Regions from separate parts of the Homo sapiens genome. Here region 1 is linked to region 2. Evidence: fine-mapped expression QTL. A gene starts in region 2. The other region holds a variant in brackets. All regions are shown on one strand. Distances are from middle to middle. Region 1 has its middle 39 kb from the start of PIP. Region 2 holds the start of CASP2 (caspase 2).

Region 1 (8,339 bases), 200 kb before region 2:
AGATCAAACTGCAAGGTGGCAGCGAGGCTGGGGGAGGGGTGCCCGCCATTGCCGAGTTAGTTATTTGATAAGGTAAACAAAGCTGCCAGGAAGTTTGAACTGGGTGGAGCCCACCACAGCTCAAGGAGGCCTGCCTGCCTCTGTAGGCTCCACCTCTGGGGGCAGGGCACAGACAAACAAAAAGACAGCAGTAACCTCTGCAGACTTAAATGTCCCTCTCTGACAGCTTTGAAGAGAGTAGTGGTTCTCCCAGCACTCAGCTGGAGATCTGAGATCTGGCAGACTGCCTCCTCAAGTGGGTCCCTGACCCCCGAGTAGCCTTTCTGGGAGGCACCCCCCAGTAGTGGCAGACTGACACCTCACACGTCTGGGTACTCCTCTGAGACAAAACCTCCAGAGGAACGATCAGACAGCAGCGTTTGCGGTTCACCAACATCCGCTCTTCTGCAGCCATCACGGCTGAAACCCAGGCAAACAGGGTCTGGAGTGGACCTCTAGCAAAATCCAACACATCTGCAGCTGAGGGTCCTGTCTGTTAGAAGGAAAACTAACAAACAGAAAGGACATCCACACCAAAAACCCATCTGTACATCATCATCATCAAAGACCAAAGGTAGATAAAACCACAAAGATGGGAAAAAACAGAGCAGAAAAACTGGAAACTCTAAAAATCAGAGAGCCTCTCCTCCTCCAAAGGAACGCAGCTCCTCACCAGCAATGGAACAAAACTGGACGGAGAATGACTTTGATGAGTCGAGAGAAGAAGGCTTCAGAAGATCAAACTACTCCGAGCTACAGGAGGAAATTCAAACCAATGGCAAAGAAGTTAAAAGCTTTGAAAAAAAATTAGACTAATGGATCACTAGAATAACCAACGCAGAGAAGTCCTTAAAGGACCTGATGGAGCTGAAAACAAAGGCACGAGAGCTACGTGATGAATGCAGAAGCCTCAGTAGCCGATGCGATCAACTGGAAGAAAGGGTATCAGTGAGGGAAGATCAAATGAATGAAATGAAGCGAGAAGAGAAGTTTAGAGAAAAAAGAATAAAAAGAAACGAACAAAGCCTTCAAGAAATATGGGACTATGTGAAAAGACCAAATCTATGTCTGATTGGTGTACCTGAAAGTGACGGGGAGAATGGAACTAAGTTGGAAAACACTCTGCAGGATATTATCCAGGAGAACTTCCCCAATCTAGGAAGGTAGGCCAACTTTCAAATTCAGGAAATACAGAGAACACCACAAAGATACTCCTCAAGAAGAGCAACTCCAAGACACATAATTGTCAGATTCACCAAAGTTGAAATGACGGAAAAAATGTTAAGGGCAGCCAGAGAGAAAGGTCGGGTTACCCACAAAGGGAAGCCCATCAGATTAACAGCTGATCTCTCGGCAGAAACTCTACAAGACAGAAGAGAGTGGGGACCAATATTCAACATTCTTAAAGAAAAGAACTTTCAACCCAGAATTTCATATCCAGCCAAACTGAGCTTTATAAGTGAAGGAGAAGTAAAATCCTTTACAGACAAGCAAATGCTGATTTTGTTACCACCAGGCCTGCCCTAAAAGAACTCCTGAAGGAAGCACTAAACATGCAAAGGAAAAACTGGTACCAGCCACTGCAAAAGCATGCCAAACTGTAAAGACCATCAAGGCTAGGAAGAAACTGCATCAACTAACAGGCAAAATAACCAGCTAACATCATAATGACAGGATCAAATTCACACATAACAATATTAACTTTAAATGTAAATGGGCTAAATGCTCCAATGAAAAGACACAGACTGGCAAATTGGATAAAGACTCAAGACCCATCAGTGTGCTGTATTCAGGAAACCCATCTCACGTGCAGAGACACACATAGGCTCAAAATAAAGAGATGGAGGAAGATCTACCAGCAAATGGAAAACAAAAAAGGGCAGGGGTTGCAATCCTAGTCTCTGATAAAACAGACTTTAAACCAACAAAGATCAAAAGAGACAAAGAAGGCCATTACATAATGGTAAAGGGATCAATTCAACAAGAGCTAACTATCCTAAATATGTATGCACCCAATACAGGAGCACCCAGATTCATAAAGCAAGTCCTTAGTGACCTACAAAGAGACTTAGACTCCCACACAATAATAATGGCAGACTGTAACACCCCACTGTCAACATTAGACAGATCAATCAGACAGAAAGTTAACAAGGATATCCAGGAACTGAACTCAGCTCTGCACCAAGCAAACCTAATAGACATCTACAGAACTCTCCACCCCAAATCAACAGAATATACTTTCTTTTCAGCACCACACCACACCTACTCCAAAATTGACCACATACTTGGAAGTAAAGCACTCCTCAGCAAATGTAAAAGAACAGAAATTATAACAAACTGTCTCTCAGACCACAGTGCAATCTAACTAGAACTCAGGATTAAGAAACTCACTCAAAACCGCTCAACTACATGGAAACTGAACAACCTGCTCCTGAATGACTACTGGGGACATAATGAAATGAAGGCAGAAATAAAGATGGTCTTCAAAACCAACAAGAACAAAGACACAAATACCAGAATCTCTGGGACACATTCAAAGCAGCGTGTAGAGGGAAATTTATAGGACTAAATGCCCACAAGAGAAAGCAGGAAAGATCTAAAATTGACACCCTAACATCACAATTAAAAGAACTAGAGAAGCAAGAGTAAACACATTCAAAAGCTAGCAGAAGGCAAGAAATAACTAAGATCAGAGCAGAACTGAAGGAGATAGAGACACAAAAAACCCTTCAAAAAATTAGTGAATCCAGGAGCTGGTTTTTAGAAAAGATTAACAAAATTGATAGACCACTAGCAAGACTAATAAAGAAGAAAAGAGAGAAGAATCAAATAGACACAATAAAAAATAATAAAGGGGATATCACCACCAATCCCACAGAAATACAAACTACCATCAGAGAATACTATAAACACCTCTACGCAAATAAACTAGAAAATCTAGAAGAAATGGATAAATTCCTTGACACATACATCCTCCCAAGACTAAACCAGGAAGAAGTTGAATCTCTGAATAGACCAATAAAAGGCTCTGAAATTGAGGCAATAATCAATAGCTTACCAACCAAAAAAAGTCCAGGACCAGATGGATTCACAGCCGAATTCTACCAGAGGTACAAAGAGGAGCTGGTACCAATCCTTATGAAACTATTCCAATCAATAGAAAAAGAGGGAATCCTCCCTCACTCATTTTATGAGGCCAGCATCATCCTAATACCAAAGCCTGGCAGAGACACAACCAAAACAGAGAATTTTAGACCAATATCCTTGATGAACATCAATGCAAAAATCCTCAATAAAATACTGGCAAACCAAATCCAGCAGCACATCAAAAAGTTTATCCACCATGATCAAGTGGGCTTCATCCCTGGGATGCAAGGCTGGTTCAACATATGCAAACCAATAAATGTAATCCAGCATATAAACAGAACCAAAGAGAAAAACCACATGATTATCTCAATAGATGCAGAAAAGGCCTTTGACAAAATTCAACAACCCTTCATGCTAAAAACTCTCAATAAATTAGGTATTGATGGGATGGATCTCAAAATAATAAGAGCTATTTATGACAAACCCACAGCCAATATCATACTGAATGGGCAAACACTGGAAGCATTCCCTTTGAAAACGGGCACAAGACAGGGATGCCCTCTCTCACCACTCCTATTCAACATAGTGTTGGAAGTTCTGGCCAGGGCAATCAGGCAGGAGAAGGAAATAAAGGGTATTCAATTAGGAAAAGAGGAAGTCAAATTGTCCCTGTTTGAAGATGACATGATTGTATATCTAGAAAACCCCATCGTCTCAGCCCAAAATCTCCTCAAGCTGATAAGCAACTTCAGCAAAGTCTCAGGATACAAAATGAATGTACAAAAATCACAAGCATTCTTATACACCAATAACAGACAAACAGAGAGCCAAATCATGAGTGAACGAGTGAACTCCCATTCACAATTGCTTCAAAGAGAATGAAATACCTAGGAATCCAACTTACAAGGGATGTGAAGGACCTCTTCAAGGAGAACTACAAACCACTGCTCAATGAAATAAAAGAGGATACAAACAAATGGAAGAACATTCCATGCTCATGGATAGGAAGAATCAATATCGTGAAAATGGCCATACTGCCCAAGGTAATTTATAGATTCAATGCCATCCCCATCAGCTACCAATGACTCTCTTCACAGAACTGGAAAAAACTACTTTAAAGTTCATATGGAACCAAAAAAGAGCCCGCATCGCCAAGTCAATCCTAAGCCAAAAGAACAAAGCTGGAGGCATCACACTACCTGACTTCAAACTATTCTACAAGGCTACAGTAACCAAAACAGCATGGTACTGGTACCAAAACAGAGATATAGACCAATGGAACAGAACAGAGCCCTCAGAAATAATGCCGCACATCTACAACTATCTGATCTTTGACAAACCTGAGAAAAACAAGAAATGGGGAAAGGATTCCCTACTTAATAAATGGTGCTGGGAAAATTGGCTAGCCATATGGAGAAAGCTTAAACTGGATTCCTTCCTTACACCTTATACAAAAATTAATTCAAGATGGATTAAAGACTTACATGTTAGACCTAAAATCATAAAAGCCCTAGAAGAAAACCTAGGCAATACCATTCAGGACATAGGCATGGGCAAGGACTTCATGTCTAAAACACCAAAAGCAATGGCAACAAAAGCCAAAAATGACAAATGGGATCTAATTAAACTAAAGAGCTTCTGCACAGCAAAAGAAACTACCATCAGAGTGAACAGGCAACCTACAGAATGGGAGGACATTTTTGAAACCTACTCATCTGACAAAGGACTAATATCCAGAATCTACAATGAACTCAAACAAATTTACAAGAAAAAAACAAACAACCCCATTAAAAAGTGGTTGAAGGATATGAATAGATACTTCTCAAAAGAGGACATTTATGCAGCAAAAAACACATGAAAAAATGCTCATCATCACTGGCCATCAGAGAAATGCAAATCAAAACCACAATGAGATACCATCTCACACCAGTTAGAATGGCGATCATTAAAAGGTCAGGAAACACAGGTG[C/T]TGGAGAGGATGTCAAGAAATAGGAACACCTTTACACTGTTGGTGGGACTGTACACTAGTTCAACCATTGTGGAAGTCAGTGTGGCGATTCCTCAGGGATCTAGAACTAGAAATACCATTTGACCCAGCCATCCCATTACTGGGTATACAACCAAAGGATTATAAATCATGCTGCTATAAAGACACATGCACATGTATGTTTATAGCGGCACTATTCACAATAGCAAAGACTTGGAACCAACCTAAATGTCCAACAATGATAGACTGGATTAAGAAAATATGGCACATATACACCATGGAATACTATGCAGCCATAAAAAATGATGAGTTCGTGTCCTTTGTAGGGACATGGATGAAACTGGAAACCATCATTCTCAGAAAACTATCGCAAGGACAAAACACCAAACACCGCATGTTCTCACTCATAGGTGGGAATTGAACAATGAGAACACATGGACACAGGAAGGGGAACATCACACACCGAGACCTGTTGTGGGGTGGGGGGAGGGGGGAGGGATAGCATTAGGAGATATACCTAATGCTAAATGATGAGTTAATGGGTGCAGCACACCAACATGGTACATGTATACATATGTAACAAACCTGCACGTTGTGCACATGTACCCTAAAACTTAAAAGTATAATAATAATAAAATAAAATAAAAAAGAACATTACAACATGCTCTGCAGGGGTAAATGCTTTATCATGTATTACTACATTTTAATCACATCTTTGTAAAGCCAGAAGCATTTTGAAAGTCACATTACAGACATTGTTTAAACATAGTTTGTATTTACCAAAGCATAGGACGTTGTATCATCTCATATTAATTAGTTAGTTGGCTCAAAATTAGTGGTAATGACTTAGTAATTCAATAATTTCTCTTAGCTTTAAAACCTTCTTTATTTCAGAACTATTTCACCTCTTGGTTTTTGTTTTTGCTGTGCATCACTGCCTGCCAGCTGCTAATCTCTTATCTCCCAGTGGATTACGTGTCCAGTGAAGGGACTGAATGAGATACTAGTGGCAAATTATATTGATGATTCATATTTTGAATAAATAGATTAAGCTTGTATAAACAAACAAACAAAAAAATCAAAAACAGGAGATGCTGGCATGGATGTGGTGATCAGGAAACACTTCTACACTGCTGGTGGGGATGTAAACTACTACAGCCACCAAGGAAAACAGTGTGGAGATTCTTTAAAGAACTAAAAGTAGATCCACCATTTGATCCAGCAATCTCACTACTGGGTATCTACTCAGAGGAAAAGAAGTCATTATACAAAAAAGATACTTGCACACACATGTCTATAGCAGCACAATTTACAGTTGCAAAATCATGAGACCAACCCAAATGCCTATCAATCAACAAGTGGATAAAGAAACCGTGATATAAACATATGATGGAATACTACTGAGCCATAAAAAGGAATGAATTAACAGCATTTGCACTGACCTGAATGAGATTGGAGACTATTATTCTAAGTGAAGTAACTCAGGAATGGAAAACCAAATGTCGTATGTTTTCACTGATATGTGGCAGCTAAGCTATGAGGACACAAAGGCATAAGAATTATACAATGGACTTTGGGGACTTATGGGGAAGAGTGGGAGGGAAGTGAGGGATAAAAGACAACATATATGGTGCAGTTGTATACTGTGTAGGTGATGAGTGCACCAAAATCTCACAAATCACCACTAAAGAACTTATTCATATAACCAAATACCATGTGTACCCCAATAACTTATGGAAAAATAAATAAATAAATAAAGTGTTAAAGAAATATCACAATGGAACAAGGCCCCTAGAAATTAACCTGAGTGCTGAAGCACTTTGTGAGCTAGAATCCGAGACAAAATAGTAATTGCAATGGTCTATTACCTTGATTTGTCCAGAGCTGAGGAGTCTCCCAGGATAGAAGACTTTCAGTGCCAAAACTCAGAAAGTTCTGGGCAAACCAGGATAAGGTAGTCATCCTCAAGACGGTGGAATGCAGAAAGTGGGCAGAAATGCCAAGGTGTGATATCAATTATTTATCTAAATTATCTCAAAATGTGTCCAGGGCTGGGAGGCAGACATTTACATGAAAAGCGTGGGTGAGATTTCTGTGTGTACAATCCAGACAGATGAAGTTCTTGGTTCACATGGGGCTTTCTATCAACGACCATTCACCAATGGAATTGGAGCCCTGAAAATTTACCCAGGGAATGTGTCTGGGGTCACTCCCTAGAGATACTACAAGACTGAATACAGGGTTGGAGTGCAAGGGCAGGGTACTTGGATCAGGGTAGTGCCAAACTGGCAAATGGAGATTCAGTGACAACTATTTCACAGTATTTAAGAGGTTGAAATGGCAAGCAAGTGAAGATAGGTGGATTAAATTGATCCCTGACACAAGCACATTATTTTGCCTATAAAACCAGGAAGAACAATCTGTCTCCTGTCCTGAGGGCACATTCATGACATTTGCCATTGTGCAGCTACTGTTGACTTTTCCTGCAGAAGAAAAATCTGTCTAAAAGGACATCTTGAAAGGCTAAGAGGGCGTGTTGGGACCTTCTGCCAGCTGGCCTGAAGAGGCTCACAAACCACCTCTTCCTCCTGGTTCCTTTGGAAATTCCACTGGGCAATGCAGACTGGTTCATCTTCTTGTACTTAACTGAGCTGCCAGGTTGGAAATAGTCCTAAACTTTTCGCACAGAGCTGTAATCTTAAACTGTAATTTTATTTTATTTTATTTTTAAAATTTTTAAAATTTTAAATTTTTTTTTAAATTATTATACTTTTAAGTTATAGGGTACATGTGCACTAGGTGCAAGTTTGTTACATATGTATACATGTGCCATGTTGGTGTGCTGCACCCATTAACTTGTCATTTACATTAGGTATATCTCCTAATGCTATCCCTCCCCGCTCCCCCCACCCCACGACAGGCCCCGGTGTGTGATGTTCCCCTTCCTGTGTCCAAGTGTTCTCATTGTTCAACTCCCACTGATGAGTGAGAACATGTGGTGGTTGGTTTTTTGTCCTTGCGATAGTTTTCTGAAAATGATGGTTTCCAGCTTCATCCATGTCCCTACAAAGAAATAGGAACACTTTTACACTGTTGGTGGGACTGTAAACTACTTCAACCATTGTGGAAGACAATGTGGCAATTCCTCAAGGATCTACAATTAAACTGTAATTTTAAATTGAGAGATGCAACATGGTGTAATGAGAAGTAGATGGCTTTTGTAACT
Region 2 (8,310 bases):
CAGCCACTGGGCTACCTCCTGGCAGGAAATTTGCAAACTGAGTTTAACAAGTTAGGATCAGCAGAGGGTAGAGGAGGGCCCTGGCAGATGTGGGGTCTAGAAGAGGACAGGAGTTATCAGGGCCTCCGGCCATTGTGCTGGGCCTTTGCCTGTACAATTGTTTCTCAAGCAGTTGTGTCCCTGTGGCTTTGGTGCGCCTGTGTGCACTTTCTCCCTCCACCTGGAGCATGGGCTAACACCGGAGGAAAGGAAAAGACAGAGTCAGACAGGGTAAGTGGGGCTCCCTCCCCTCTTCTCTCTAACGGGGCTGGATTGAGGGCCTCTGGCTGGGGAGGTGGGGGTGGAGATCCAGTAGGAGCAATAACAGAGGAAGGGCAGGGCCTGCCCCATCACCTGAATTCCAGAGATGCCAGTGTGCACTGAAGCCCCAGGCAGGGCGTGCCCAGGACCGGATCCTGGATGGTGGTAAGGGACAAAGCTGGAAGGGAGACTACAGGGAAGGAGAAAGGAAAGAAGGCAGAGCCATGACACAGTCAACTTACAGAATGGCTGGGAGTCAAAGCTCCTGGGCTGGTTTCCTGGCTATTCCACACACTCCAAGACATAGAGAGAATTTCGGAACTGGAGGGGACTCTACAGATGATTTATTTGAGATTGAAGAACCTAGAAACCAAACAAAGAAATATCATATGGTTACTTTGGTATCTGACACAGCCATGACACCAATTGCTAGTGTAGACACAATAGCTGTGTGTCTTTTTGCAGGAGCCTGGGGAGGGGCCATGGTGCCAATGCACTTACTGGGGAGACTGGAGAAGCCGCTTCTCCTCCTGTGCTGCGCCTCCTTCCTACTGGGGCTGGCTTTGCTGGGCATAAAGACGGACATCACCCCCGTTGCTTATTTCTTTCTCACATTGGGTGGCTTCTTCTTGTTTGCCTATCTCCTGGTCCGGTTTCTGGAATGGGGGCTTCGGTCCCAGCTCCAATCAATGCAGACTGAGAGCCCAGGGCCCTCAGGCAATGCACGGTGAGTTAAGGGTGGGCATCGTAAGAGGAATACACCTTGGGCCCATCCTCCCTCTCTCCCTGTAGTCTCTGAGGCAGAGAGTCTCTGGTTTCCTGTCATTGGCATCAGCGGGAGGAGGGGTCAGAGGCCAACAGAGGATCTTTTGCCCACAGCAGACAAAAAAAAGGGAAAAAGGGCTTCTTTCATGGAAGCCACCAATGGCCTTATTTCTCTTCCCTCAGGGACAATGAAGCCTTTGAAGTGCCAGTCTATGAAGAGGCCGTGGTGGGACTAGAATCCCAGTGCCGCCCCCAAGAGTTGGACCAACCACCCCCCTACAGCACTGTTGTGATACCCCCAGCACCTGAGGAGGAACAACCTAGCCATCCAGAGGGGTCCAGGAGAGCCAAACTGGAACAGAGGCGAATGGCCTCAGAGGGGTCCATGGCCCAGGAAGGAAGCCCTGGAAGAGCTCCAATCAACCTTCGGCTTCGGGGACCACGGGCTGTGTCCACTGCTCCTGATCTGCAGAGCTTGGCGGCAGTCCCCACATTAGAGCCTCTGACTCCACCCCCTGCCTATGATGTCTGCTTTGGTCACCCTGATGATGATAGTGTTTTTTATGAGGACAACTGGGCACCCCCTTAAATGACTCTCCCAAGATTTCTCTTCTCTCCACACCAGACCTCGTTCATTTGACTAACATTTTCCAGCGCCTACTATGTGTCAGAAACAAGTGTTTCTGCCTGGACATCATAAATGGGGACTTGGACCCTGAGGAGAGTCAGGCCACGGTAAGCCCTTCCCAGCTGAGATATGGGTGGCATAATTTGAGTCTTCTGGCAACATTTGGTGACCTACCCCATATCCAATATTTCCAGCGTTAGATTGAGGATGAGGTAGGGAGGTGATCCAGAGAAGGCGGAGAAGGAAGAAGTAACCTCTGAGTGGCGGCTATTGCTTCTGTTCCAGGTGCTGTTCGAGCTGTTAGAACCCTTAGGCTTGACAGCTTTGTGAGTTATTATTGAAAAATGAGGATTCCAAGAGTCAGAGGAGTTTGATAATGTGCACGAGGGCACACTGCTAGTAAATAACATTAAAATAACTGGAATGAACTCCTGATCCCAAAGCCTATTGTGTTTTCAACACAAGGTAATAGGAAGCCAAGCAACTTGCATGTCTCCCAATCCCTGTCTAGGGACAGCTGCTGGTGCAGGATGGAAGACTTCCTATAAACAGAATGGGCGACCAATTGTGTCTACAGAGGGGGTGGGCTGAGCATGGGCACGCATGTCCCCAGCCTCCTGGACGAGCAAAGTCAGTCAAAGCGCTGGTGATCCCTGCTCCGCGTGCGTAGCAGTGTCTGTGCCTCTCCTGCCCAGGGGCTAGAGAGCAGTCTCCAGTGCAGGGTCCCCATCCTATCTGAAAACAGTGGAGTCAGTGACCCCAGGTGGAGGGACTTCCAGTTTTAACAATGGGTTGGTATGAAGGCCAGAAGGAGTGAAACATGTGAACTTTCTGGCGAGGAGACTCCCTCTTGAATCATCCATATGTAGCCCCGGGGTCACTTGCGAAGAGTCTCTAACAGCTTCTGCCTCACTCCTAAGCTCTGACCGCTAGGCTTTCACCCCAGCCGCCGGTCCTGATTCCTGAGATCCCAATATTGAGCACCAGGTTTCCTGGAATTGTGTGCTGCGGCTGTGATGTAGGTTTCGGTCGCTGGAAGCTGCTAAACCATAGCTGACGCCCCCTCCTAAGCCAGCCTTCCTTCCCCGCGCGGGCATCTGTCCAGGGCCTTGTCGCGCTCTCAGTCTCCTTCGCAGCCTGGCCCCAACCGTTCAACTTCAATAAAGCAAAACTCCAGCCACGCCCGTCTCCGTGAAGTTATCGCCATAGGCCGGCCAGGGGGCGCGAGAGGCACCGGGGTGATTTCCGCGGGAATCGATAACCAATCGGATTCCCAGGCCGAACGGAGCACACCCGCCCGCCCTCGCTCTTTCCCCGCCCTTTGCCCCGCCCCGCTCCTTCCCCTCCTTTTGTCTGTCCGCCGAGCACCCCACTTCACCCCATTGGACCGCGCGGCCGCCGCTAGAGCTCTGCGCCTGCGCACGCACCGGGCCGGGGACTGGGTGGCCTGGTGTGTGGGCGCGGCAGGGCGCAGGCGCAGGCGCAGTGTGCGTCCGCGTCTGAGGGGAGGGATGTGGGGGAAGCGACGGCCCCCGGTTTGTTTGGGCTGTGGGCGGTGCGCAGCGGAGAGCCCGGGAAAAGCGGGAAATGGCGGCGCCGAGCGCGGGGTCTTGGTCCACCTTCCAGCACAAGGAGCTGATGGCCGCTGACAGGGGACGCAGGTAAGTAGGGAACGGTCTTAGGGCTCCTTAGGGGAGCCCAGGGAAGGGGAGCGTGGCCCCCAGGCGTGCGGCCCTGCAGCCCCCTCCCCTCGGAGCCCCGGAAAGCAGCCGTGTCCGCGCTTCCTGCCAAGGGTGGGACGCCCGCCCGAGCCGCTCCGAGCCTGACTCCGCGCAAGGGCCCGCGGGCGGACCTCTTGGCCTTGTCTCTCGTGGGAAAAGACTGCCCCAGCCTCCCTTTGTTCAACCCACGAGGGTTCTAAAGGGGAGGTCTTTGCAGTCCTGCCCGCTCTTGGGTTCTCTTGAAGATTCTTCATCCTTTCCTCTGGCTCCCTTATGAGGGAAACTATAAAAAGACCATACTCTGTCTCCTTAAAAATCGACGAGACCTTCTGCAGACCTCGGTGCTCTGCCTGATGTGCATTTGATTTGTATCGATTGTATCATGATCTGCATGGCTTTGCATAGAATGACCAGATTTTCAAAGAAGTCAATACAGGGTTTGGAAATTGAGTACTTTTGGCAGAACAAGGGGGTTCCTGTGGCTCCGAGTGTCCATGCCTCTGCCCCGGTCATTCCATTTCATGGCAGTCATCACCCAGGAGAACATTGTAATGCCTCCTGCTCGAGACTGAAGATTAAGGTCTTCGCAAAGGGAACCTGCAGAAGGACACAGAATTAAGACGTAGGAACTCCGTGGTGCCCTTCGCCCCTCCTCCCCTTCCAGTTGTGTCCTGAAATTCTAAATGATTGGAAACTTTTATAATGTTCACGTTTAAGACTCTCATACTACAGAGTAGAGGAAGGAGCGGGTGTGCAGAGGGGGTGATGCTTCAGATTAAAACTAAAGAGTTGATTGAAAATTCAAGTCTGGAACTCGAGAGAGTTAAGAACTATAAGTCAGTAAGTTGCAAGTATGGGTGAGATTGTCTAGGGAAAGGCTCTTTGAAGGGGCGTCCCTAATGGAATATCAATATTAAGGGCAGGCCAAAGGCCCTCTAAAGAAAACAGGAACTGGGTAGGCAGAGAGAAGACTCCCAAAGAATGCTGTCATGGAAACCAGAGGAAGAGAACGATTTAAGGAGCGAATACTACTGGTAAACTAATGGAAGAAATCTGCTGCACCACTGGTTAGTATCCCAGCTGCAGTGTTATATGTGATCGTTATTACTGCTTTGACGTATTCGAAAGTGATTCATTCTTAAATAGGTTTTTTTATTTGTATAGCTCTTTTTCTTGTAGCCAGTTTTTCCTGAAAGTCTTGGGTAATGGAAATATTACAGTAAAAAGAAGAAAAAATGGAGTTTCAGACTCATTTTTCCAAACCTCAGATTCATTGGCTGCTTCCAACCCACTTCATCTGTTTTAGGATCCCACCTGCTATCTTAGTTCTCCCAGTTCTTCCAGGACCCAGCTCTTCCCTCTTCTAACTATAAATCTCTCACCCAATAGCATCTGCAAGCCAAGTGCATCCATTCCATAGATGTGTGGTATTTCACTGACTCTAAGATACACATTTTTTCCCTCCCTTTTTTTTTTTTTTTTTTTTTTTGGACGGAGTCTTTGCTGTGTCACCCAGGCTGGAGTGCAGTGGAATGATCTCAGCTCACTGCAACCTCCATCTCCAAGGTTCAAGCGATTCTCCTGTCTCAGCCTCCCGAGTAGCTAGGACTACAGGCATGCAGCACCACACTCGGCTAATTTTTTGTATTTTTAGTAGAGACAGGGTTTCACCATGTTGGCCAGGCTGGTCTTGAACTCCTGACCTCAGGTGATCTGCCCACCTTAGCCTCCCAAAGTGCAGGGATTACAGGCATGAGCCACCGTGCCCGGCCTCCCCTCATGTTTTAACACCTTAGAAATCAGAATGCATTTTAGAGTAGGTTTTTAAGTTATAAATGGAAGTTATTGTATTTTCACTGCTATCAGGTGCCACCCTTCCTGCTGTTACATATGTGGAAAATGTGACGGGGCAGGCTAGAGAACTCTGGATTTATGTAAACTAGGCATGTAGATGACATATTGGCAATAGGATTATTTTAGTTTATAAGCAGAAGCTGATCTCTTTGCAAGCCTGTAGCAAAATTAGCTGGAGGTGACAGCACATGCCTGTAGTCCCAACTACTTGGGAGGCTGAGGCAGGTGGATCGCTTGAGTCCAGGAGTTCTGGGCTATAGTGTGCTATGCCAGTCACGTGTCCACATTAAGTTCAGCATCAGTGTGGTGATGTCCTGGGAGTCAGGGTCCACCAGGTTGCCTAAGGAAGGGTGAACCCGCCCAGGTCAAAAATGGAGCAAGTCAAAACTCCTGTGCTGCTCTGTAATGGGATCATACCTGTGAATAGCCACTGCACTCCAGCCTGGGTGGCACAGTGAGACTCTTTTAAAGTAAATAGATAAATACCTATCCACTGTGACTTTCTGTCATACTTTCTGCTTATCCACATCTTAACAGGATTCGCCATTTTGTCACTGGAACTTAAAAGTTTTAAAAAACATGTAATTATATGTTTATATCACTAGTGAAAGAGAGTTAGTGTCTGCCTCATTTATTTTCTGTTAAAGCCATTGGCTTGAGTTTTTACCATAGTGTTTTAACCCTCATCTAAGATCATTATAAACTTACATCACTTTCACCAGCTTAGATAATGTGAGATGTTTTCTGAAATAATTCTCTTTATTAAAATTGGTCTATCAGAGAAGTATTCCTTCTCATAAATATGTGTACTTGGGGGTATTGTTTTGCTTAAGACAGATATTTCCCTCCTCTAGTCAGACCATTCATCTCAGATGATCTCAGCTGAACATAAACCATAAGGAATTAGACATTATTTTCTTATGATCAATGTGTTCCTGCTTAGTACATCTTTGCTTTAACCAGATTTAAGAAATATGCATAATCTTGGTTATTGTAAGTCTTATTCTTTTTGTTCTTCCTATTCATGCCTCTTCCACTCCACTCTTCTGTGTCAAATTGTGACTTGACAGCCTTTCCTTCTACCGTTTATCTGTAGGATATTGGGAGTGTGTGGCATGCATCCTCATCATCAGGAAACTCTAAAAAAGAACCGAGTGGTGCTAGCCAAACAGCTGTTGTTGAGCGAATTGTTAGAACATCTTCTGGAGAAGGACATCATCACCTTGGAAATGAGGGAGCTCATCCAGGTATCTGGAGGCAAAAGAGAGAAGATAAATTGATCATGGGGTGGGAATAGAGCATGACAAAATATGGAAAGGGTGTCGTATCTTTCTTCCTTTTTTTTTTTTTTTTTTTTGAGACAGAGTCTCTGTCTCCCAGGCTGGAGTACAATGGCGCGATCTTGGCTCACTGCAGCCTCTGCCTCCCAGGTTCAAGTGATTCTCCTGCCTCAGCCTCCCAAGTAGCTGGGACTACAGGCAGGTGCCACCATGCCTGGCTAATTTTTTGGATTTTTAGTAGAGACAGGGTTTCACTGTGTTAGCCAGGAGGGTGTCGATCTCCTGACCTCATGATCCACCTGCCTCGGCCTCCCAAAGTGCTGGGATTACAGGTGTGAGCCACCACACCCAGCTGGATGTTGTACCTTTCTAAAGAAATGGAAATGCCCTTCTACCGTAGAGCATTTGAGAGAAATGATATATAACTCAAGAATAACAGAAAGGACTTCACCCATACATACACTTTTCCTGTAAAAAGAATTCTTGGATGAGGACACTACTAGGAAGCTCATGTGGAGAAATAGAATTATAGCTAGAGAAGTAAATATGATTTCATGTTTTATTCTTGTGTCTTAGGCCAAAGTGGGCAGTTTCAGCCAGAATGTGGAACTCCTCAACTTGCTGCCTAAGAGGGGTCCCCAAGCTTTTGATGCCTTCTGTGAAGCACTGAGGGAGACCAAGCAAGGCCACCTGGAGGATATGTTGCTCACCACCCTTTCTGGGCTTCAGCATGTACTCCCACCGGTATGAAGCTTTAGTAATATGGGGTGTTGGGAAGGGTTAGTTTGACTGGAAAGGAATTTGTAAGTCAGAGTGAGGGAGACTAGATTTTGTTGTATTTGGACCGGACCACTTCCCTAAGGTCTGTCATCATGAGTTTTGATTTCTTACAGTTGAGCTGTGACTACGACTTGAGTCTCCCTTTTCCGGTGTGTGAGTCCTGTCCCCTTTACAAGAAGCTCCGCCTGTCGACAGGTGAGAATTGATGGACTAAAAGGGGTCCCAGGCCAGGTGCCACGGCTTACGCCTATAATCCCAGCACTTTGCGGGGCCAAGGCGGGTGGATCACCTGAGGTCAGGAGTTCGAGACCAGCCTGGCCAACATGGTGAAACCCCGTCTCTACTAAAAATATAAAAACTAGCTGGGCATGGTGGTGGGTGCCTGTAATCCCAGCTACTCGGGAAGCTGGGGCAGGAGAATTGCTAGAACCCAGGAGACGGAGGTTGCAGTGAGCCAACACGGTGCCACCGCACTCCAGCCTTGCCAACAGAGTGAGACTCAGTCTCAAAAAATAAAATAAAATAAAATAAAAAGGAGGGGGGTGTCCCAGATTGACTTCCCCTTTCTTGTCTGGTATCTGGCTTTGTCCTAACATGAGCCCTTTTTTTTGTTTTTTTTTTTTTTTGTTGTGTTTTTTTTCAGAAATAGGGTCTTGTTCTGTCACCCAGGCTGGAATGCAGTGACACCACCATAGCTCACTGCAGCGTTGAACTCCTGGGTTGAAGGGCTCCTCCTGCCTCAGCCTCCCAAGTACCTGGGATTACAGGTGCATGCCACCACACCTAGCTCATTTTTAAATTTTTTGTAGAGAAGGAGTCTCACTTTGTTACCCAGGCTGGTGTCAAACTTCTGGCCTCAAATGATCCTTCCGCCTTGGCCTCCCAAAGTGCTGGGATTATAGGCGTAAGCCACCATGCCCAGCTGAGACATAGTTTATATTGGGAACAGTTGTCAGTAAATTTGTTAAGGGCTAGTAGGACA

What was found.
Region 1: its variant is fine-mapped to the expression of CASP2 in T cells (TOPMed, PIP 0.95).

The regions. Positions count from the first base shown.
Region 1 is chr7:143,088,683-143,097,021 of GRCh38, forward strand. No RefSeq gene overlaps it. Among named protein-coding and RNA genes, the nearest start is that of PIP, 39 kb to the right of the region's middle. The variant C/T (reference allele first, on the strand shown) is at 5,096.
Region 2 is chr7:143,285,176-143,293,485 of GRCh38, forward strand. CASP2 (caspase 2) reads left to right here and starts at 3,176. Exons shown (of 11, transcript NM_032982.4): 1 at 3,176-3,354; 2 at 6,365-6,515; 3 at 7,125-7,292; 4 at 7,442-7,523. The coding sequence starts at 3,281. TMEM139 (transmembrane protein 139) reads left to right here. Exons shown (of 3, transcript NM_001282876.2): 1 at 1-270; 2 at 766-1,027; 3 at 1,249-2,873. The coding sequence starts at 783. The coding sequence ends at 1,654. TMEM139-AS1 (TMEM139 antisense RNA 1) reads right to left here and starts at 1,159. Exons shown (of 3, transcript NR_133932.1): 1 at 802-1,159; 2 at 543-663. It also overlaps the pseudogene RN7SL535P. RefSeq lists an enhancer at 1-1,008 and a silencer at 2,803-3,552.